Homo sapiens: one gene and its partners. The protein of the gene in region 3 interacts with the protein of the main gene of each other region in a pairwise test. Each region holds a gene or a part of one and is shown on either strand. Other genes may lie near its edges.

Region 1 (7,039 bases), on a different chromosome or scaffold from region 3:
CCTCCCGCTACCTGCCCAAACCCCATCTGAATGATTTGTGGACAAGCAAGAAGTTTCCACCGCATTTCTCCTTGACTTTACTAAAAGTTAAATAAACGTGCCACTCGCCCCGGCTGGCTACAAGCTGCAGGGGGTGCCGGGTCACCCCAGGCCTTTTCCTGAATCCCAGGGTAGACGCGGTACACTGAAGGCCAGGTTCTCAGCAGCAGGCCCAGGGATGTGGGACCATGCTTGTCCTGGGTTCACAGGCTCCTTTGTCCCTCCTGGCAGTGCTCAGGACCTCAGACTCCTCAGGGTGGCTGCGAACTGCCCTCAGCCAGCCAGGCCCCCAGGCTTCTGAGTGTTAGTCCTGTCCACACAGGTAGCTCCTGTGCCCTGGGGTCACCTCTTTCTTCTCCTGGGCACCTCAGCTTGGCCAGTTCCCCGGCCCTGCTCAGCTGCTCGGGCCTTGCTGCCTTGTGAGCTCAGCTACTCCTGCCCCAAACAAGGGCAGGGTCTGCAGGGCGCTCGAGACAGAGGAGCTGCCCCACCAGGACCTGGACTTGGCACGGGTTGCGAGGCTCCCACAGGAGTAAGGACGACTTCCCAGCCCCGAAGTAGCCTTCCCAGTAGAGGCAGGAGGCCAGGCTGGCCTCAGAGGCATGATGCTCTTGGGAACAAATACAGGAAAGCTGGAGGTCATGGGGCCTGGGAGAGGGAATCGCTGGGGATGGGAAGCCAGGAGAGCCCTGCCTGCCTTCCCTGTTAGCTTCGGCCTCCCTGGGCTCAGGCGTTAGAGCCCCAGGCTCTGGCACAGAGTAGCCACCCAGGAAATGCCTGTGTGAGTAGGTGATGGGGTCAGTACAAATGGCATGTGGGTCACTAGCTGGAAGGAGTTGGGGCAGGAAGGAGTGGCCCGGTGGGTACATTGGTGACAGAACAAGGCCACGCTGATCCAGGGCCTCTCAGAGCTCAGCAGGTCACAGCTACACAGGCCTGTGTCCTGAGAAGTGTGGCTGCCAGAGTGGTGTAGCGGTCCCAGGGCTCTCCATAGGCCCAGGCTGGGGGTGCCCAAGTCATAGGCCGCCCCCTTCAGTTCCAAGTAAGAAGACTGTATCCCACGAAGCAGCGACAGTCCCTCCTACATCTGCCATGAACAGGCTTTGCTCCTAGCTCTCCACGACCCCCTCCTGTGCACCCCGAGCAGCCTCCACGGGTTGGGGCGCCTCAGAGCCCTCCCTTTCTGATGCATCAGAGCAGAGTGGGGAGCGAGGCACAGCTGTCCAGGAAGGGCCACGGTTGCTCGGCAGGCTCAGGTCCTCCAGGCAGGGCTGGCTGCTGCCCTCATCACCCCCCAAGCAGGCAGTACAGGCCCCAGGGCCCAGGTGCCGTGGTTACTGGGAGGAAGAGGCCATCTGGGTGGAGATGAAGGTCTCGATGACGCTGTGGTTGGATGGCAGCAGGTGGCTCTGGCCATTGCTGGAGTCTGAGCTCTGGTACAGCACCAGGCTGCTGGAGGACACTGCAGAGGCAAACAAGGCTGCTAGCCACCCACCAGGCACCCACACCCACCCCACCTGCCTGTCCCTAGGGGTACTCAGGATGGGGAGGCAGGGCCACACCTCCTGGATCACAGCAGATAACAGGAACCCCAAAGTCACACCTCTACCCTCGGTTCTTCAAAGGGAGCCTCCCAGCCAGGGTCCACGGCCGCCCATGGAGTGGCCTGAGTACATCTTAGTGTGAACACTGGAGAAGCCCCGGTGAGATGCCGAGGTAGGTAGTTGTACGTGTTGGCTTGGCTAGGCTGAGTCAAACACTAATCTAGGCGCTGCTGTGAATGCAGGTGCTTTGTAGATGTGGTTAATGCCACAATCAGTTGGCTTTGAGTGAAGGAGATTACCCTGAAAATATGGGTGGGCCTCCTACATCAGTGGAAGGCCGTAAGAGCAAAAACCGGTTTCCCAGAGAAGGAATTCTGCCTCAAGGCTGCAGAATTCACTCCCCAGAGCTGCCAGCAACAGATTTCAGGCCTGCCAGCCCCCCGCAGACACGGGCCAAGTCCTTCAAATAAATCTGTTGGTTCTGTGTTCCTGGAGAACCCTGACTGATGGCAATGGTTAAGAGAATGGGCTTTGAGGTGGGACCTGGGTTCGAGTCCTGGCCCTGCCATCTGGTAGCTGTGGGAGATGAGGCAAGTCCCTCCCCTCCTTGAGTGTCCACTTTCTCATCTGTAAAATGGGGGTGGTCATGGACACGCCTCATGGGGTGAATGCCAGGACACAGAATGGCCTCAGTGGCTGTCATGACAGCTGCCAGGGCCGGGTCCAGGAACCTTATAGAAAGGGGGCAGCTTGCAAAAAGGCAGGCTGCAAAGCCCACCCACCTGACTCCAAAGTGCCCACTCCTGACAATGGCATCATAGATTACAAACTCAGGTGACCGCCCCACCGCCAGGGGTCATTGGAGCCGATGTGAGTGGATGCAGTGAGGCCTGGTGCACTGTTATATGGGAATATGAATTTTTCCAATTTTCCAAAAGATGCCAGAAATCTGGATTTCTATGTGAAAATTCCTGATTTTGAAATGTTGGCAACAAATTCAAAGAATGTTCAACCCTGAGCCAAGCCAAACCAAACACATGCAAGAGTCGCTTCTGGCTCACAGACCTGGTCCTTATCGTTACTCTCCACTGCCTCTAACAATTACTTCATCATTTTCCTCAGTCCAGTCCCTGAGATGTTCTTGTAAGGTGGGCCCCATCTTCCTGGGGTCGCCTGTGCCTCTTGGGCTTCATGGAAGCCCACCCCACCCCTCCACGCCTGCCAGTGCTTCCTCACAGCAGCCCTAGGCCTGCTGCATGCACAGCCCCACAGTGACGGACAGCAACAGAAGGGGTGGGACCAACATGGAAGGGGGCAGGGACAGTAAGGGAGGGGGTGGAGCCAGGGCCTCTCACCTGTGGGGCTGGCGCTGAGCCGGTGGGCCGGCTGCAGGTGCTGGATGCTGGCAGGGTCCTGGCTGGGGACGTGGAGGGTGGTGGCCTGAGATGCCGGCGTGTGAAGCCCGGACTCACTGGAGGCCTCAGTGTCTGAGGTGAAGACCTGGGGGAGCAGAGCAGCCTCCTGAGCCCGGGGGATGTGGGGGTGAGGGGCTCTGTCACAGGCCAAGGGAGGGCCAGCAGGCCTGGACCTTACCTGCTTGGTGGGCGTGAGGCTGGCCAGGGCGCTCAGGTTGGTGGTGTCGGTGATGAGCATAGTCTGCGGGAGCAGGCCCGTGTGGGTGTACTGGGCCACCTCGGGCTTGTGGCTGTAGAGGGCTGGCCGCAGGGGAGAGAGGGGCAGACGTGGCAGACGTGCCTGACAGCCCTAGTCCCAGGCCTCAAGACTGGGGAAAGGGGGGCATGGGGCCTGCTGAACAGCCAGACTGGGCAGCAGTTGGAGATCCAGGGCTGATTTTCAAAACTGGAGGCTCCAGATAAAGGGACAGACCCTCTCCCCATTACAGGGAACTGCTCAGCTGCGCTTGATGCAGGGGAGCCTGGAGGAGGCCAGAAACCAACTCCAGCTCCTCTTGTCACCTGGAGACAGCAGGTATGAAAGGGAACGGGAGGTGCAGGTGCAGGGCTACTGTACTAAGCACGGGTGCTACGTACTAAGCGCAGGTGCTACTGTACTAAATGCAGGCGCTATGTACTAAGCACAGGTGCTACTATACTAAACACAGGTGCTATGTACTAAGCACAGGTGCTACTGTACTAAACTCAGGTGCTGTGTAGTAAGTTCAGGTGGCCCCTGTCAAAGAGCAAGGCAGAGGACAGCAGTACTTCCATCTCCAGGCCACCTTTCCAAATATAACCCCATGTTTTGCCTACAGCACCTCCACCCACCCCTCAGGAGACACATAGACCCTACAAGAGACACACAGACACTAGGAAAACGCACATAAACCACATATTCTCACAGTGACTCAGATAAAAATGTAACACACACACACGCATACACTCTCAACCATGTACACACAGACATACACAGGCCCCAAATCTCTTAACCCAGTCCCAAATTCCAAAAAGGTCTGAAACCAAAAGATTTCCTTAAGATTGGCACTAGAGCTCATTTGGTGGCGAAACCCAGCCTGAACCTGGTATGAGGTTATGAGTGTTTAAACTGCCTTGTGGAAATCCTATCTTTGGCTGCAGAAATAGCAGTGCTTTGATCACAGGGGGCTGTCTCAAACCCTGCTGGGAGTGTTATGTGATAGCTGGCATATCCACCAAATTACTTTTCTTTTTCTTTTTTTTTTTTTTGGCAGAGTACTCACTCTGTTGCCCAGGCTGGAGTGCAGTGCAGTGGCACAATCTCAGCTCACTGCAACCTCCGCCTCCCAGGTTCAAGCGATTCTGCCTCAGCCTCCCAAGTAGCTGGGACTACAGGCACGTGCCTCCACGCCTGGCTAATTTTTGTACTTTTAGTAGAGACGGGGTTTCACCGTGTTGGCCAGGCTGGTCTTGAACTCCTGACCTCAAGTGATCTGCCCACCTCGGCCTTCCAAAGTGCTGGGATTACAGGCATGAGCCACCACGCCTGGCCCCAGATTACCTTTCTAAAATCTGAATAGATTTTAGAAATTCATATGGCCCTAAGAGTTTCAGAGAAACACAGGCATGCACACAAATGCATGCACAACCGATACACACCCAGACACGCACTAGGGATCTGCTCACACAAGCAGTCGTGCACACACACAGATACGTGCATTCACATGGGAACACACTGGCCTGCAGACACCCTCAATCACGGAAACACACTTGTCCCAGAGACACATGCAGACTGCAATGCCTGCCAGGCACCCCTTTCCCCTGCATCCATTGACAGCCAACCTCTATCATCATCTCCTGCTGTGTGGGGCACAGGGCGCTCACCGTGGGGGCTCTGCAGCTGAGCCATGGTGGCCATGAAGGGGCTCTGGGTCACATGGCTCTGCACAGGTGGCATGAGCGGCTGCTGGTAGGAGGGGTGCAGCGGCTGGGAGAACTGGACGGGCTGCAGGGTGGTCAGGCTGCTGCCCATGCTGTTGATGACCGGCACACTCTGTGCCTGCGTGGAGGCCAGGCCTGGAGTGGAAGGGGAGGGAATCAGCTGGGCCCCCCAGTTATATCCCACCCCTGCCCAAGACCTCCCAAGGGCACCACCTCTCCTTCCCAGAGCCCGTGGTTTGGAGGAGGGGGCAGGGTGGTCAGGAAACAGCCCTCCACTGGGACCTGCCACTAATTTAAGTGGCTCTGGCAAGTCATTCCCCCTCTCTGAGCCTTTAGCTCTTTGTCTAGGCTAGTGGGAGAGGCAGGCGGTGACTTGTTCAAAAGTTGTCAAACTGCGGTTCCCTGGAGCCCTGGGGTTCCACAGCAGTGCAAAGGCCATGGGGTCAGTTCTCTGCTCCCCTCTCCTAGCAGCTCCTTATCTATCTTATGTACTGGGCTTCTGCATAATTGTACCTGCAAATAAGGGCTTTCTGGGCTTAATTTTTCTTCATAAAACAAAAACTTAGAAAACATCAGTCCCCCTTACCCTGCTGTAATTTGCCCATAGACCCTTCACCTTCTGAGGTACCACAGAATTGATGTATTATGCTTAGTGCCTGCCTCCCTGCTTGAGTTGCTGAGATTTTGGTCTGTTTGGTTCACCCAGGTATCACTGATGTAGCACAGTGACTGGTCCAGAGTAGGCACTGGATAAATACATGTTGTATGAATGAATGAATGAGTCCCAGTGGCTCTTCCAGCTCCTGGATTCTGCGGTTGCCCCATGAGCCTCCCACCCAGGTGCCCACCCATCCCCACCAGCTTACCGATGACCAGGGTGGAGGCACCTGTGTTGGTGAACGTAGGACCCAGGGAGGCAGGCTCACCAGGCCCGATGGTCATGACCCCAGGAAGTGAGGCCATGATGAGGTTCTGGGGCTGCTGGTTGAGGCCTGGGGATGTCTGCTCCAAGCTGTGCAGTGCTGTCAGGGTGCTGACAGGGGGGAGGGGGCCCCCAGCTGCTGAGACCTACGAGGGGAAGCCAAGCTGTGTCCGGGGGGCCGGGGTCCCCACAGGGCCTCCCTAGGGACTGCTCCAGAATCTCCCTGCCAAGGAAAGATGAGGTTGGGTTTTCCTTACAAGCAAGGACACTCACCAGCTTGGCTTCTGTACTCAGCAGGCTGTGGCTGGGCTCCAGGCCCGTGGGGGACACTTGGTGGAGGGGTGTAGACACTGTCACTAAGGGACCGCCGCTGCTTGAGGGTACTTCTGCAGTCTCACTGGTCGCAGGCTGTCCATAGCGCACACCTGGAGAGGGAAGCAGTGTCCTGCCTCAGCACCCCACTTCCCTGCCCTCCCCTGCCTCCACAGCCCTCAGCACTTCAAACTCCATTGGTTTGCTTAGGCCAGCTGCCTGTCTGCCTTTATGCAGCCAGCAAATCTGCCTTTGTTTCTACCTTTTGCCAAGCCCTGGGTCAGCTGCTCCCAGTTCCTTGAAGGCTGGGACTGCATTTATTAGCTCCATTCCTCCCACTGCCTAGTGCTATACCTGACATGCAGTAGGTGCTCAGTAGAAGACAACTGAACTGAATTTAACTGAATTTAGTTGAATTGAAATGAATTGAATTGATACAATCTGAAATGAATGAATTGAATTGAATTAACCCAAATCAACTTAGGTTGAGTTGAGTGGAATGATATGAAGTGGAGTGGATGGTGTGGAGTAGAGTAGATGGAATTGAGTGGAATGAGTGGGATCAAGTGGAATGGGTACAGTCGAGTGGAGTGGTAAAGGGTGGAGAGGACGGGTGGGGAGGAATAGAGTGGAGTGGAATGGTATAGGGTGGAGTGGATGGAATGGTGAGGAATAGTGTGGCGTGGAGTGGAATGAATGGAGTGGCTAGAGTGGAATGGATGGAGTTGTGTGAACACAGTGGAGTGGAATGGTATGGAGTGGAGTGAGTGGGTTGGAGTGGAGTGAATGGAGTAGACTGGAATGGTGGAGTATGTGAATAGAGTGGAGTGGAATGGTATAGAGTGGAG
Region 2 (3,558 bases), on a different chromosome or scaffold from region 3:
GAGGCCGAGGCTGGCGGATCACCTGAGGTCAGGAGTTCAAGACCAGCCTCAACATGGAGAAACCCCGTCTCTACTAAAAATACAAAATTAGCCGGGCGTGGTGGTGCATGTCTGTAATCCCAGCTACTCAGGAGGCTGAGGCAGGAGAATTGCTTGAACCTGGGAGGGGGAGGTTGCGGTGAGCCGAGATCTCCCGCCATTGCGCTCCAGCCTGGGCAACAAGAGCGAAACTCCGTCTCAAAAAAAAAAAAAAAAGGTGCTGTGGTATACACCGGTGCTTCTCACACTTTAATGTGCATACGGATCACCTGGGATCCTATAAAAAGGCAGATTGATTTAGTAGGTCTGGGTAGTGCTGGGATTATCCAGTTCCAACAAAGTCGCAGGAGATGCCGTGCTGCTAGTCTGGACCACACTTACCTACTCTCTCCTAGACCCTTCACTAGAGACAGGATGTAAGCTAGGAAACTATGTACAGTCCAATTCAATAACCAAGAAAAAAGAAGAAAAACAAGGCAAGTGTTCCATTAGAAGCTGAAGTTTTATTATAGGATAACAGTACATAAAGCACATCTAAAATTGATGTGTTCAATGCACTTTTAATAAAGGTAATGTAATATTAAAGGTACAGTTTCTAAGTACAATATAACAACATTCATATTAGAATGAAAATTGGAGTATTTAAAAGACAACATTAAATCTCTCTTTTTTGTACAGCTTGTATTTACAAAATGAATCAAAATATTTTTTTTTTAAATTCAGGACTCAATAAAATAAACAGCTGGAAATAAGCAGACTAGTGTAAGAGTGAATTGAAAAGAAAACCCAAGGTAAGTGAAAAGTTGGACGATCCTCTAATAAAGATCATTAGCAAAGTTTTAGTTCAATACTAGTTTTAGGATTCCCATAAATGGCTTGCATTTTTAGTGTGGCAGAAAAGGAGTTTTTACATACTGTACACAAAACAGACAGCATATATTTATAGGTACAGTATTACTGTTTCCAAACTTGCATGTATATTTACAGAAGGCTGAGTTTGTTTACTCAAACAGAAGTTTGTGAAATTTGTGTGCTTAATCCTCAAGACCTACACACAATTAGAATCAGCATTTCATGTGGTCTTTTTAAATGTGGCTTTAATACTTGGTTGTAGAGGAGAATGTTAACCGTAAGGCTTGGCTTACTTTGTAAATTTAACAAAACAACCCAGGAAAAACGTTTTAATTGGGGCACACTTGTTATCATTTAACAATTGTCAAATGCTGACATGTGCTAGCCATTGTGCAGACGCAAAAAGATACAATCTCTACCCTCAGGAAGCTTAGGATGCTAAATCGTGCTTTAAAAAAAAGGTTTCAATCTCTTTCCAAGAGAGGCAGTTAAGGAATGATGTGATTTATATTAAAAGAGATTTCTCCCTCAACTGTAGCCAATCCACTTTAAAAGGTTAACTACTAGCATTAGCTCTCATTAACCACACAATTGCATTTATAATTAAGGTAACAGCAACTCTTCCACAAAAATGGAAAATGTCTAGAATTGTGGATAAATATTGCAGTGCATGGAAGCCAATAATCATGGCTTGAGAATTTATCACCTTCAGTTACAAAAAGTGCAGTAAACAGAAACATTTGCTCTACATTTATAAATTGCTCAAAAATCTTTGCTAAAGATCTTACAAATTCAGTAATATTACAGAACAATTCTAATCAATATTTAATAAGGTTAACTACATCCTTAGTTAGATATTTGATAAACTTTGCTTTTCAATAATGCCAGTAGATCTTGGGAGAATGGGTAGAAAGGCTTAATTAAGCTACTTATTAAATAACTTTGAAAATGAAGGTCCTTCACTCAGTTCATGGAACTGGTTGAGGTCATACTGAAACAGAACATCCCATGTCGAATTTGCTTTATGGCCCATGTTATGGCAGAGGACGTCTCCATCCTTCTCATGACTCAGGTAGGAGGGGAAAGGTTTATTCTGCCATCAAGCCATCTAGGATATTTTATGTAAATGCCCATTATCTATAATAGGAGCTAAGAATACAACTGTGTTAGGTGCCAGTAATACAATTCCTTAATAAGAAAAAAAAGTATATTACTCCATTAAACAAGTTTCTTTAGGATCTTGAAGGCCTGGCAAATTATTTTTCAGCTTAGGAGATATGCTGTAAAGCCAAGTAGCAAACATAAAGTAAATGCTAATAAGTTTCCATATAGCCATATTTATAAACAAATTCACCCTATAGATGTCAAATATCCATACTAAGGAAGTAATTTTATCCTAATTAAATACACTCTAGAATAATTTATATAATGATATTATGTATTTAAAGAGAAAAGCATGTCCCAAATCCAGCACTCTGATACAGCTGCCAGTTGGGCATAGGTAGATATATATATATATGTATATATATACAAATATATAGTTATACTCAGTGAAATTAACAAGACCCAAAGGTGGTATTGTCTAGGAATAAAAGGGATAATTTTTGTTGTTCACAAAAGTAACTTGTCTAGCACCACACATCAGAAAAACACAAAAATAGCACACTCTAGTTCTAAACAGCTATGTCTAAAATAGATTATATAGTAAAACCGGTATTATACAGCATATTGTGGATTTGATAAACAGATAAATATTTGCACTGAGTAGGCTGTTTATAATATAACATTTTCTTATCTATACAGAATGAAAGCCAAAAAGTTAACTGTATAGAGATGTGCAGAACAACATTAAATATTATGACTCAAAAGCAGGGACAGGTAAATTTGAAAGAAGAGTAAGAGAGAAAATGTTTACAGGCCGTTACAAGTTCTTAAGTTAATAGTAAATAAGGAATCGATTGCTCAAGTTGAAGAAAGCAGTAAACAAGAGATTGCATTTACATGCAGATGTCTAAAATTTGTATTTTTTAAGTCTATGCACAAAAGTCATTTGTTTTATTGCTTGACATTCAGTTATGGCTAGATTATTTAACCTATTTTTTTTGTACTTTGGAAACAAGAATATTGTTAAAGGTGCCATAAAAATGGACAACACTGAAAACAGTTTGCAAATAAACCACCTAACACTGCAGTTCTTTATACATATTAAAAGCCTTGTCTGGGGTTTGTCATATGTTAAATATTATTTAAAGTGGGAAAATATGTTGTAGCTTGAAGCCTCCCATTGGCCCAAACATCCAATACAAAAACACATCTCCACAAAAGGAGCAGGCAGACAATACAGGTACATTTATAGAAGCAGCCAGCTAATGTCCTAATGTTTAAAAATTTACCACTGTTTAATATGAGATTTCAAACTGTGTGGATAACAGGAGAATTTTGGATTCAGGAAGATGTATACAGTACATATGGATTTTTTTTGTGAAATCATTTTCACTATATTGCTCAAGAATTATCTGCATTTACATATGCAATCTGTTCAGTGATAATCAAGTTCCTAGAAATAGTATTCATCCACATTAAAGTAATAATGATGAAAAAGGAATCACACATGAACACTGGAGAGAATTTAGTTGTTCTTAGAGAACAACATAATGGCATGTGCAA
Region 3 (7,039 bases):
TTGCACTGTCTTCACATATACACTGCTTCTTTCAGGGGAGTCTGTAAACTACTCTTTCTTTCATAAATTTATGATTGTTCCTGGAGGACATCCTATTTTTTAAAGTCCCCAAATCATTAGCTTTATGACAGTGTGTGTGTTTGTGTGTGTGTGTGTGTGTGTGTGTGTGTGTATGCGCACATGTGCGCATGGGAAGGGGGGGTGTTACTTACTAAATGTCTTCATGTACATAGAAAAAGAAATTTCATAAATTTACAGAAACTGCATTACCCTTGCCCTTGACATCTGATAAAAGAGATTGTTAACTTTTAAAAGGAGAGAGCAGGATTTTCAAGAATGCTTTCAACTGTCTATACAGTCACTGTAGTGTTCCTAGTAAATTCAACAGATGTCGTGAGAATGTAGTTATTTATTAAAATCTCATGTCTTACATAATGACAGCCATGAGGTTAAATATTTACATTGCTTTATAAAAGTTCCCCTCTTGCTTTAGTGTTTCTGTTTTGCTTTTTTTTTGTTGTTTTAAATTTTTTTAAATGATATTCACCCACATCCCTAGTACAGTGACAAAGATTCTGCAAACATAAAACACTTCTTTAATTAAATAATACTCGGAGGCACAAAGCAAACTTCAGGAATATGTGGGTGAACGTTTACTTAAATAATTACTACATTCTAACATCTTCCATGTGTTTTACCATTTAATGTGAAACGTCCTCATTAAACAGCCAGAGATACAGTAAGAATTAAATGTTTTGTTGCAAATAGAACATTCTTTTCACAAAACATAACAAATGTCTAAAATAGGTTCTTAAATCTAGATAGGAAAAGGTAAGCTTTCCACTTCACACGCATATATATATATGTATATTTTTACATGTGTGTATATGTGTGTATGTGATTTTATGTTCACACATCTGCGCACACATATATAGCACATGGTATGAAATATTGCTTCTATACTACTTTTCATTAGGCTAAGAAAACACAAGATTTGCACCACAGTTACAAAAAATTGGCTTCTACAAGAATTTTCAAAACTCGAATGCTGCTCAAACAATTGAGGAAAAAATAATTTGCGGTATCAAACTGTTCTAAAAATTCTCTTCTTCAAAAACGTATTCTCCCGCTTTGTTTTAAAAAGACACAAAATATGCATAGCTATCAACGTTATGTCAAACAGCCAGAAAAAAAATCTAGTGTTTATTGCAGCTGTAGTAATTGGAAATAAAGTCAAAAAGATGAAATCGAAAGCCACAGAAGGCACAAGAACAATTGTACTTGTTGGGAAAAAACTGGTATTTTGAAGGATTTTTTAAAATCCCCCCCGCTGGTGCATTTTAGGTCTAGGCACAGACTATAACCTCAAGCGTATACGCAAAAATAATTTAGGGTTAGCAGAAAATAAGTGGTAGTGTGGTTTTTCAACATGGACTTTAGACTTTTTTTTTTCTTTTCCTATGTAAACTGTCCCTCATCCTTCACCATCCCACCATAGAAAGTTAACTTTCTCCCAAGTAGCCAATTTTCACTTGGTGAGAGTTGAGCTAAGATTTGAAAGATGGTGATTAAAAAAAAAAAATCAAACTGTTAAATAGGAATTTGGAGAGACAGGCTTTTGTCATTTTCCAATGCACTTGGGAGGCACAAGATTTCGATTGTAAAAGGGAAAACCACCGGAAAGCATAGTGATAAAGTTCTATTTTCAGAACAAAGAGGTGAGTTTATCCTCATGCTGCAATTTCTACTCTGAAATAATTTCTATGCCTCAGTGAACATTGAGAGGATATTATCAGTAGATAAGGGCATCAACATTTGGTTGTGAACACACACTTTTGCTTAATTTGTCTATTTAAATTAGAAAGGGAGGGGAAAATAATACTAAAAAAATCCAAATAAGTCTGGAATCAATATTGAACTCGCCCCAGATCAAAAAGATATCTAGCAATCTGTCTACATAGGTGAATACACTACAGCTTTGCCTTTTACCTTGCAAATGGCAACACAAAGTTGATATGAATTACACGGAACAGCAAAAACCCAGTGGCACACTGACACGAACAAGGACTGCCATCCTCTTTTAAAACAAAGCCAGTCAGAAAACTGTGACTACAAGTTGGGATTACTTCCCTATTTTGTGCTGATGGAATTTTTCCTTCCCACTTTATTCCAATGTCATGATTATCCAAACTGCTTTTTTTTAAAGCAAGTGAGAAAAATAACAAATTGGATCTAATGACTCTGTGCATTAGTAGAGTGTGAGCTGGGAGATGTGTGAGGCCGCGGGTGCAGAGTGAGGTGGCTGGTGCCCCCGCCCGTGTGGCTGCACCCTCTGTCTACACTGCGAGGCCCTGTTAGTCCCCTGGATGGTGCAGGGCATCATAGGACTGCACCATTTAATTTAAAGTCAGCAGGTTTTAAGGCTTTGTGCTGACAATAATTGAGTTCATACATTCCTGTCCATCAGCAGAATTTATAAATGACGTTAAATTACAGCGATCGGGTCAGCTAGTCAGTCACATGGGTCAAGACCTGTATTCTCCAAAGTCAAATGTAATTCTTATTAAAGTTGAATTAAAAAATGGCATTTATGTTCTATATGTTCTAAATACCAGATTTGTTACTGTGTCATTTTAGGAGGTGTATATCAAATTACCTAAGGGGAAGGAAGGGTCTGGAAAACAGTTTTAGGATGAACAATGAATTCTTACTGCATCTGGACACAAAAACCCACCTAAGAAAAAAAGTGTGAATGCCATACGAGTTTTTTCAATGCAAGTAGGGAACACTGTACATCATTGAAAAACAGGGAAAAATAAAAGGGAAAAAAGAGGAGAACCATGGAAGAAAGCATAAAATAGCAGCTAGCTTTCTTATGTGTGCTGGAATTGTGTCTTTTGGGTTAACCCCAAATTTTCCTATGCTATACACTCTTCTCACATTTTGGTCAATACTAGCTTCTGAATTGGAAGAGGCATTATCAATTGCTTTAAAATGTTATACCTAAAATGAAGAAACACTGAGTTAGACTGTCACCACTTTGCATACCCATCAGGATAGTGTGGAATTGCTTGTGAAAATATATGTGTTCCTCTTAGGAGATGACGATCAAGTCAGCTAATGGCTGTCAACAAACTTCTAGTGTAGGCAAGAATTTTATGGCCAAGTTGGGCTTTCCTTTATTCCTTACTGGAAGGAAGTATTCAGAAAATAGTATTTTAGGGGAAAAAATTGTTAAGTAAACAGAATCCTTTTAAGCATATAAACAAAGTTGAGCAGCGTAAATTGGAAACTTAGTGCCTTTTAGTATCTGAAGCAAAAATGATAACAAGTTATAGGATTTTTCTTTATGAAGAATGATGTAAGCTCACTTATGAAGAAGAACCTATTTTCAAGTTTAGAGAGGTGGCTACAAGACCAGGTATGAATTTCTAGTCTCATCTTGAGAGAGCTGGTTTTGTGCAAAATTGCTTTGCCTCCAGAAGAAACTGGTACGACTTTCAGAGTTTGCCTCTTTTCTTAGACAAGGCTTGAGAGTGATTATTTTTCTTTTTTAATTTGGCCTTTTGGGGTACTTTGGAAAAGTGAGCTGCTCATCTGTCATTGGAATTATTTTTAAACATGTAAGGAAAAGCTACTGATTGAGTTCAAACCAAACAAAATACTTAAATGTATGAAGTGGTTTCATTAAATTTTCAGACCTTCTTAGCAGTAGAAACAAGAGACACATCACTGTCTGTAGAGTTGTGCTGTGTCATGGGTTTTCCTCAGCCAACCGCCATTTGCAATAAGTCATCAATCAAGTGGATGCATCGTTAACAAATTCCCTTCATTGCTAATAGAGACTTTACACACGCCAACATTCTTTTTCCCTGAAAATTAACCCTATTTTAAGTGTCCAAATGTTAAGGGCCTTGGGCAAAAGCAAACTAAAGGCAGAAAGAAAACAACCATCCCCTTGCAATGGAAAACAAAAGAAAATGAGAGAAACGTGATGAGGAGGAATTACCAGCTGATTTCATAACATATCCATGCCTCCCATACACATATATATGAAATCAAAATCTAGACACATATAACTTGGACATCCAAAGGGGACTGCTACTCTTCATACATTCAAAAAGAGTTGTTGAAATTTCTACTCATGAAGCAGCTCTTGTAGGCAGTTCGGGGATTTGAAAATCTCAGGGACTTCACTATCCAGCTTGCAGATGACCTTGTATATGGCCTTCTTCCAGGAAGGATCAACATCTTTGCCTGCGATAATGGCATTGAAAAACTCCCGTAATGTGATCTGAGCAACTTCCAGGAATCTCTCTGGAACCTGCTGATACAAGGAGACAATGGCATTAATAAAGTTTTCAGTTTCAAGTCTACAGTTATTCCAAGGAAACTGAGCTAAGATCATTCTTGCAGAAAGGGGCTTACATGGCACCTGCATTTTCTAAAAATAGCTGGCTTCTATTCTTTTAATGTAAAGTCATTATATATAGAAGCATTGTGATGTGGGGTTGACAGCTTTGTTTTAAGAAGAGTGTATGAAAGATCCAACGCAGACCTATTGAAAAACTGGGATTTCATTGTGGATATTAGGATAGGAATATGGGATGTGACTTTTGGGATTCCTCACTTTATTAAATAAGTGCTATCCAGAAGAAAGTCTCCAATTATTTTTTCAGAATTTGAATCCTATTTCTTTTTGATTGCCATGATGAAAACAAAATACGTTCTCAAAATAGAATAACAAATAGTTGGGCTTCTTTATAAATTAAACCCAAGCTTTAAATGAAGAAAATCTTCTAAAATCTCAGTTATCTGTTTGTCTCAGAGGATTGTTGACTCAGATGCTAAGTTGTATATTAATCTGCAATATAAAGTATTCTATATACATAAAGGAGTAAAATAATAATATTAACATGAAGTCACAAAACTGATCCTAAAATATTACATCAGAAACTACTTAACCTTGAGATTAGAATTGCTCCATAAGAGAGTGATTTATTCAGCTGATAATAATAATAATACAAACTAACTTTTTTCGAGTATTTACTACTTGCCAGGCTATGTTTTATGTACTGAATGTGAATTATGTCATTCAGTTCTCCCAATCTCTCTAAGGGGTGTTATTATCCCAGTTACACAATAGAAAACTGAGGCTCAGAGAGGGTAAGGAAATTCCTCAAGGTCCTTATCATCCAAAATAAACATTCCCCAAATATTCATTTTAGAACCCCAATTTCTTAAGGCTTTTCTTCCACAGCAATTAATATGTATGTGTGTTGTGTGTGTGTGTGTGTTCTCTTAATTACTTATTAATCTGATCTCTTGACTAAGGAAAGCAGTAGCTACTGATGTACTTATTTAGTGTTCTTTGGAAGTTACTTATAGTACAGCATGGTCTATCTATCCCCACACCAACATAATGGAATCACAGAATAATCCATGAACTCATGATTTTCCAAGTACACATTGACACTTAGTAGATTTCTTTTAGTGGGGTACTTATACACCAGTAAAGTTTCATTTTTACATTAAGTGCAGACGTATGAGGACATAAACGTATCATAGGTGTACATGTAGCCATATTTATCTACGCATATACAAGAGATGAAAGACATTTCATCTAAGTTCAGACATGCCACGTACCAAAGTAAAAAGGAAGTAGTGTAATGTTGAACATGTTTCATCTCTTTCTTCCCACCTTGGGTGCAATGTACTTTTTAACAATAGTAGTAACTGGTAAAGAAAACCAGAATCATCACCCGACATCACTGTTTTTCACGTTTAAAATTGGACAAAGAAGTTCATTGTTCCCTATGGCAAGTTAATTGTTGTTTATAAAGAAATGTAATAACTCTGCAGAAAAAAATGAAAGGGACTCCTTTTGGGGCCAATCAGTCTTAAGCTTACATTTTTATCAGACCCTCCTAAAGACTTTCACACTGGCCCATTTCTTAGGACATAATTCCCAGTGTTGCCTGGAAAATCCTTCAAAGTGCCGCCTTGTCCGCCATGAATGTGCAAACCCATACACCTCAAGGGCCATTCTCTGCTGAGAATTCATGTGGATTTTCTACAGGCCTTTGGGTGATTTCCTCCCAAATGTCTTGTATACATGAGTATTTGTTGGAGGAGAGCTTAGCCCTCCCACTCACATTATACAAATAAAAATTCGTGAAGCAATCTTTTCTAGCACAGTCACCTCCACCCCCAAAGATAATCCTCCACATTCTATCAAATGAGCATCACTGAGGGAGGGAATGTGGCTGGAGAACAGTGAAGCGGAGCAACTGCCCACTCTCACTCCTTGGATTGGGAGCTGTTAGCCAAATGCTACAGAAACATAATCATAGGCATTTATTAATTTATTTATTTGAGATGGAGTTTTGCTCTGTCACCCAGGCTGGAGTGCAGTGGCATGATCCTGGCTCACTGCAACCTCTGCCTCCTGGGTTCATGAGACTCTCCTGCCTTAGCCTCCTGAGTAGCTGAGATTACAGGCAAGTGCCATCACGCCTGGCTAACTTTTGTATTTTCAGTAGAGATGGGGTTTCACCATGTTGGCCAGGCTGGTCTCCAACTCCCAACCTCAGGTGATCTGCCCGTCTTGGCCTCCCAAAGTGCTGAGATTACAGGTGTGAGCCACTGCACCTGGCCAATTATAGGCATTTATTAAAATAAACGTTTCAAGAAGGGTGGTTTCATCAGCCAACGGCAATACAGCCTCAGTGAAATTCTATGTTCCTTGAGCACTCAGGGATGCAGCATGACATGGCAGAGAGCTTTGAGGGGTGAAGGTGTGGGCAGCTGCCCCAGAGAAGCCAGAGAAGGCCGGAAGCCCTGCCCACACCAAGAACTGCACAGGAGGTCTGGGGAACCAGGGACAGGGGAAGGGCAGGCATTGTTCAAGACTGTCAGAGGAGAGAGAAGAGGTACATCTAGAACATCAGCAGCAGGGGAGGGAGGGAAGTGTAGTTGTAGGATTTGCATGAGAACAAGGCAACTTCTTTGGGGGTTGTATGCAGTCTCCTCTTCATCA
Region 4 (7,039 bases), about 14 Mb from region 3:
TTCCCTTAACACAAAACTGACCAGTGAAAATCCTCATTTGCAAAACATGTAAATTAGAACTTGATTATTCAGATCACAAAAGGATTCATCACAGGACTTTTTGAATAGAAAAGACTATTACATGTAAAGTACAGTATTTTATTTCAGGGAGAGATCCATTACATATATGCCAAATTTTTGAAAATCAGTTTCTAGTTAGAAAAAGGAAGGAAATTGGCTTGTGAAATAATTTAACAGGTCAAATTCACAATTGTATCAATCTTGGACAAATGCACCAATAATGTGAAGCAAGGAGTTACCGGTGTATTCCCTGGGGATGGCTGAACTAAAGCATATCCCTTATCCCCAGGAGCTTACGGTCTGCATAGGGAAACAGACAGTTAAATAGACAGAAGCCAGCATCAAGGCAGGCAGCAGAGCAATGATCCTGGAATGGCATGGTCAGTAAATGAGAGGAATTCACTCAGAACTTCTTCAGGATCATTGCCATGTGTATAGATGTAGAAACAAAATAGACATTCGGCAAGTAAGAATCTTTGGGACAATTAGCAGCATATGTTTTATTATTTCATGATAACATTCATCAAAATAGCTTAATGGGATAATTAACTCAGGCATGTGGATTCAATTCTGATCAGCTTTAGCAAAAAATAGTATATTTAGCCAAAATATGAGACACCTATATATTTTCCTGCCAGAAGGAAAATTGCACATATTTCCCAAGTTTTGGGGGAAAAGGGTGTCAGTTTGGACCAGTATTCATAGAAATTAACCATCGAGGCTGGACGCAGTAGCTCACGCCTGTAATCCCAGCACTTTGGGAGGCCAAGGTGGGTGGATCACTGGAAGTCAGGAATTTGAGACCACCCTAGTCAACATGGTGAAACCCCATCTCTACTAAAAATATAAAAATTAGCTGGGTGTGGTGACACAAGTCTGTAACCCCAGCTACTCAGGTGGCTGAGGCAGGAGGATTGCTTGAACTCAGGAGGTGGAGGTTGCAGTGAGCCGAGATCGCACCACTGCACTACAGCCTGGCAACAGAGCAAGACTCTGTCTCAAAATAAAAAAAAGAAAGAAGTTAACCATTGAATGCTGAGCTGAAGACTCTAAATTATCATTCTATAATAGTAAGTGGATAAACCAAAACTTATGATCTAGCCTTTGTTTTATGTTTGTTGGTAGTTTTCTTTCTTTTTGTTTTTCCTTAACAGAGCAGCATAGTTTATCACAGAATGTTAAAACTGGTTCTCAAAAAAATACAATTATCAAAAAAGGAAAGTTTCAAACAACTTTCTAAAAAGGGTATTCTTCATTTTTCTTACATTTTACATTCATTCTATGCAAATTTCTACATCCTCTCTATTAATCTCTGACTGTTACTAGCTTTGCTTGCTGGTGAGAGTATTTTTCACTGTAGCGTAAAATAATACTGCATTTCAAATTTTTAATAGTCATGTTTTAATCACTATAATGCAAAACAAATGTAGATTTTTCTATCATGTACCAAGGTAGGACATATTGAAGGTATTTCTGATTGTTTATATTTTGCAATTTTGAACCAAGTATGACTCTGGATACATAGCCATACTTATAAATATTTTTAAGTAACTTAAAATCATTTTTAAAATATATTAAATAAGACAGGTGGAATATGCTTTACTAACTGTAAAGTGCCGCATGGGTAAAATGTCCAGAGCACACCAATGTGGTTGCCAATTTAAATGCCACCGGAAGACTCAGAGCTCCTTATTGTGTAGTATTTATGTTTGTACAACTCATCAATGAATAATCAACTATGTTTGAGTCTGCCATCTCACTTTGAAAGAGATATGGTACCAACTCACTACATAACTATTTCAGTACTAATTCCTCACTGTTTTTAATTTGGGTCAGAGACTTGGGGATGGAAAGGGGAAGCATGTTTAATGCAAAGCTATGGCCCAAATGTAAACACTGAAATCGTCCTGAACACACTTCAACAGCGAATGTATGACAGCCCAGTGTAAAGCCATTTAGAAATAACAAGATGGACATGTACACATATGTAGGTTAAGTTCAACAGTATATAATGCCCAAAACAGTATATAGTGGGTATGAATTACTTGAACCGAGTTTAGTATCTTTATCCTTTTAGTCATAGTACTGTGTGGTTTTCTCCATATTCTCTTTCTTATTTATTTTTGTCCAATTAGAAAATAAAGCAGGGCAGGGTGGCTGCATCTGTTTACTTTCTGAGCATGGGTGTATGTAAACACACACACGTATCTGTCTATTTTTTCCAGAGGCTTCTATGTACACATCATATAAAAGTCATACTGTTAACATAAATCAACCCCAGAAGAGAAATTCCAGCATACCGTTTTCCCTTGCCTATTGTCTGTGTGTGTGTTTGTATGTCAGTCTGTCTTTTTTTATTCTGGCTTTCTCTCTTATTCAGTATTTATAAGGACCTTTAGGGCAGATGTCTAAAAACAACTGCATAGTCATCAGGAGTTAGGCGGAATGAAATGCCTTTGCTCATCTTCTCTACATGAGTGACCAGAAGAAAAAAAAGAAACACAGAGTATCAGACTTTAGAAACTACATGCAGGTTAAAGGGCACTGACCATCCTGGCTTGTGTTCTGCCTAAAGGACAAGGCTCTCATTTGATAAAGATCATTAGTCACCAAGATATATATTTTAGAGAGTTCCCAGTAGCGAATATTCTGTTGGCAGTCACTGGAGTGTACCAGATGGTTCATTAGCATAGGCTAGACAAGTCAAAGACTTTCAGAATCATTTAGAAAATGTCAAACAGAAACAAGAATCCTGTCACTTTTTATTAGAATTAACTACATCATACCCTGGACACAGATTTCACCTTGGGTCAGAAAAATTAATACAGAATTATATGAATTGTGTAATATACTGGGTTAAGATAGGTCTTTCTCCAGGGACTCATTTGCTGGCAATATATTAAGATCCCTCTACTTTAGGAATCCTCAATCCTTTCCTTTTGTAAGATATGAAAAGAGTTGACCTTGCTCAAAATCCACTGGTGTCTAATTGATTTGAGGTATATGCAGAATTTCAACAAGACATTCTTCTAAAGCTCTTTTGTGATCCTTTTCCCAGGAAGTTTGGTGAGTGGGGTTTACTGAATATTCAGCAGCATGTAAAGTATGTTTATGTCAAAAGGAAAATACATCCATTAATTGAACACATTGCTTTAGTAAACAGGAATTGAAATGCTATTGAAATGTTGCTTTTTTTTTTTTTTTTTTTAATGCAGATGTCAAAAACCTTGAAAACTTCCAGCTGGTAGAAGGTGTCCAGGAACAAGTCAATGCCGCCCTGCTGGACTACACAATGTGTAACTACCCGCAGCAGACAGAGAAATTTGGACAGCTACTTCTTCGACTACCCGAAATCCGGGCCATCAGTATGCAGGCTGAAGAATACCTCTACTACAAGCACCTGAACGGGGATGTGCCCTATAATAACCTTCTCATTGAAATGTTGCATGCCAAAAGAGCATAAGTTACAACCCCTAGGAGCTCTGCTTTCAAAACAAAAAGAGATTGGGGGAGTGGGGAGGGGGAAGAAGAACAGGAAGAAAAAAAGTACTCTGAACTGCTCCAAGTAACGCTAATTAAAAACTTGCTTTAAAGATATTGAATTTAAAAAGGCATAATAATCAAATACTTAATAGCAAATAAATGATGTATCAGGGTATTTGTATTGCAAACTGTGAATCAAAGGCTTCACAGCCCCAGAGGATTCCATATAAAAGACATTGTAATGGAGTGGATTGAACTCACAGATGGATACCAACACGGTCAGAAGAAAAACGGACAGAACGGTTCTTGTATATTTAAACTGATCTCCACTATGAAGAAATTTAGGAACTAATCTTATTAATTAGGCTTATACAGCGGGGGATTTGAGCTTACAGGATTCCTCCATGGTAAAGCTGAACTGAAACAATTCTCAAGAATGCATCAGCTGTACCTACAATAGCCCCTCCCTCTTCCTTTGAAGGCCCCAGCACCTCTGCCCTGTGGTCACCGAATCTGTACTAAGGACCTGTGTTCAGCCACACCCAGTGGTAGCTCCACCAAATCATGAACAGCCTAATTTTGAGTGTCTGTGTCTTAGACCTGCAAACAGCTAATAGGAAATTCTATTAATATGTTAGCTTGCCATTTTAAATATGTTCTGAGGGTTGTTTTGTCTCGTGTTCATGATGTTAAGAAAATGCAGGCAGTATCCCTCATCTTATGTAAGTGTTAATTAATATTAAGGGAAATGACTACAAACTTTCAAAGCAAATGCTCCATAGCTAAAGCAACTTAGACCTTATTTCTGCTACTGTTGCTGAAATGTGGCTTTGGCATTGTTGGATTTCATAAAAAATTTCTGGCAGGAAGTCTTGTTAGTATACATCAGTCTTTTTCATCATCCAAGTTTGTAGTTCATTTAAAAATACAACATTAAACACATTTTGCTAGGATGTCAAATAGTCACAGTTCTAAGTAGTTGGAAACAAAATTGACGCATGTTAATCTATGCAAAGAGAAAGGAAAGGATGAGGTGATGTATTGACTCAAGGTTCATTCTTGCTGCAATTGAACATCCTCAAGAGTTGGGATGGAAATGGTGATTTTTACATGTGTCCTGGAAAGATATTAAAGTAATTCAAATCTTCCCCAAAGGGGAAAGGAAGAGAGTGATACTGACCTTTTTAAGTCATAGACCAAAGTCTGCTGTAGAACAAATATGGGAGGACAAAGAATCGCAAATTCTTCAAATGACTATTATCAGTATTATTAACATGCGATGCCACAGGTATGAAAGTCTTGCCTTATTTCACAATTTTAAAAGGTAGCTGTGCAGATGTGGATCAACATTTGTTTAAAATAAAGTATTAATACTTTAAAGTCAAATAAGATATAGTGTTTACATTCTTTAGGTCCTGAGGGGCAGGGGGATCTGTGATATAACAAAATAGCAAAAGCGGTAATTTCCTTAATGTTATTTTTCTGATTGGTAATTATTTTTAACAGTACTTAATTATTCTATGTCGTGAGACACTAAAATCAAAAACGGGAATCTCATTTAGACTTTAATTTTTTTGAGATTATCGGCGGCACAATCACTTTGTAGAAACTGTAAAAAATAAAAGTATCTCCTAGTCCCTTAATTTTTTCATAAATATTTCTGGCTTTTGAGTAGTGTATTTATATTGTATATCATACTTTCAACTGTAGACAATTATGATGCTAATTTATTGTTTCTTGGTTTCACCTTTGTATAAGATATAGCCAAGACTGAAGAAACCAAATATATGTGTTTACTGTAGCATGTCTTCAAATTAGTGGAACTTAGTTCAGGGACATAGAAGAGTCTTAATGAATTAAAATCATTCACTTGATTAAATGTCTGTAAATCTTCATCATTCCTACTGTAGTTTATTTAATATCTATTGTAAATTATGTGACTTGTAGCTTCCTCTGGTTTTCAAGTAAACTCAACAAGGTGGAGTCTTACCTGGTTTTCCTTTCCAAGCATTGTAAATTGTATACCAAAGATATTAGTTATTACTTCTGTGTGTACAAAGAGGATTATTTTATTATGTTTATTAATCACCTCTAATACTCATCCACATGAAGGGTACACATTAGGTAAGCTGGGCGTTGACTCATGCGCAGTCTCAGTCACCCGTGTTATCTTCGTGGCTCAAAGGACAATGCAAAATCGCCGATCAGAGCTCATACCCAAAGCATTACAGAGAACAGCAGCATCATTGCCCTCCCCAGCTGAAAAACAAGTTGGCTAGAAGATACATGGAGAGGAATGGTGTGGTCAACAGTTAATGAAACGGTTCTATCATGCATGTGTAATGTGGATGGAGACAATTATAAGATTTGACTATAACTATTTGGAGGGTCTTTAACATTGCCAAAAAAACAAATATGTTGATTTTTATTTTATTTTATTTTTTATTTTAAGAGGCGGGATCTTGATCTCACATGTTGCCCAGGCTGGCCTTGAACTCCTGGGCTCAAGCATTCCTCCTGCCTCAGCCTCCCCCATAGCTGGGACTAGGGGTGCATGCCAGCATACCTGGCTACGTTGACTCTTAAAATCTATGTTCTCTTATTTTAAAGATACAGTGCTCCCCACTGAAAATTAAACCTAAAAAATGTCACATATTGGTATGTTGTTAACCTGGTAGATTAAATCATGAGAATGATTAGAAAGACGGGCAACACAGCGGGTTACATCCACACTGCTGATCACACCAACGACAGGAGCTGATAAGCAAGAAAGCGTCACAGCCAGCGTCTGTTCACCCAAGGTTGACAAGTGAAGTTTCTCTAATGTTGATTGTTAGCCGATTTGTAACCTGGCATTTACTTAGCAACTGCCTTATCAATTACAGGATTTGCCGGTAAAAGCAGACTCAAATATAAAGGTTTTTGGCTTAACTTGGTTTATTATAGTTGCTCTATGTTTGTAAACAGACAATCTCTAATGTCTGATTATTTGTATCACAGATCTGCAGCTGCCTTGGACTTGAATCCATGCAATGTTTAGAGTGTGAAGTCAGTTACTTGTTGATGTTTTCTTACTGTATCAATGAAATACATATTGTCATGTCAGTTCTTGCCAGGAACTTCTCAACAAAATGGAATTTTTTTTTTCAGTATTTCAATAAATATTGATATGCCCAGCCTGATAATTTTTAAAAGTTTTTATGTTGTCCTCATTCTATCGGATACTAAAGCTTCTAAATAAGAGACTTGACTAGGAGTGAAATCAAAAGAATCCCACAGGAATAGATACTTTTCCCTTTAGATAACTTCTAGAGTGGTTGGCTGTCCTTCCATGGATACCTGAAGCATTAAATTCAATCTGAGCATCATCTCTACATGTGAAACAAAGTATTTTATATCATTTACTGTTATAATCAATAAGCAGAAAAATCTTAATAGCATCTCACTTTTTTGTAGAGCTTATGTTGTCCTGATAACTTTCCCAAGTGCTTTCTTA

What was found.
Region 1: the proteins of PROX1 (region 3) and HNF1A interact in binary tests that used the Homo sapiens proteins (3 or more experiments, as listed by UniProt).
Region 2: the proteins of PROX1 (region 3) and RORA interact in a two-hybrid assay, tested with the Homo sapiens proteins (one study listed by BioGRID).
Region 4: the proteins of PROX1 (region 3) and NR5A2 interact in binary tests that used the Homo sapiens proteins (3 or more experiments, as listed by UniProt).

The regions. Positions count from the first base shown.
Region 1 is NC_000012.12:120,995,527-121,002,565, reverse strand, and holds the end of HNF1A (hepatocyte nuclear factor 1-alpha), read right to left. Parts: intron 6,305-7,039; coding exon 6,153-6,304; intron 6,026-6,152; coding exon 5,824-6,025; intron 5,093-5,823; coding exon 4,901-5,092; intron 3,299-4,900; coding exon 3,177-3,298; coding exon of another isoform or gene 3,084-3,176; coding exon 2,939-3,083; intron 2,081-2,938; exon of another isoform or gene 1,502-2,080; coding exon 1,374-1,501; 3' UTR 54-1,373; downstream 1-53. UniProt on the Homo sapiens protein: Transcriptional activator that regulates the tissue specific expression of multiple genes, especially in pancreatic islet cells and in liver. Binds to the inverted palindrome 5'-GTTAATNATTAAC-3'.
Region 2 is NC_000015.10:60,487,762-60,491,319, forward strand, and holds the end of RORA (nuclear receptor ROR-alpha), read right to left. Parts: 3' UTR 523-3,558; downstream 1-522. UniProt on the Homo sapiens protein: Nuclear receptor that binds DNA as a monomer to ROR response elements (RORE) containing a single core motif half-site 5'-AGGTCA-3' preceded by a short A-T-rich sequence.
Region 3 is NC_000001.11:214,032,934-214,039,972, reverse strand, and holds part of PROX1 (prospero homeobox protein 1), read right to left. Parts: intron 4,328-7,039; coding exon of another isoform or gene 4,325-4,327; coding exon 4,139-4,324; 3' UTR 1-4,138. UniProt on the Homo sapiens protein: Transcription factor involved in developmental processes such as cell fate determination, gene transcriptional regulation and progenitor cell regulation in a number of organs.
Region 4 is NC_000001.11:200,170,688-200,177,726, forward strand, and holds the end of NR5A2 (nuclear receptor subfamily 5 group A member 2), read left to right. Parts: intron 1-3,275; coding exon 3,276-3,523; 3' UTR 3,524-6,728; downstream 6,729-7,039. UniProt on the Homo sapiens protein: Orphan nuclear receptor that binds DNA as a monomer to the 5'-TCAAGGCCA-3' sequence and controls expression of target genes: regulates key biological processes, such as early embryonic development, cholesterol and bile acid synthesis pathways, as well as liver and pancreas morphogenesis.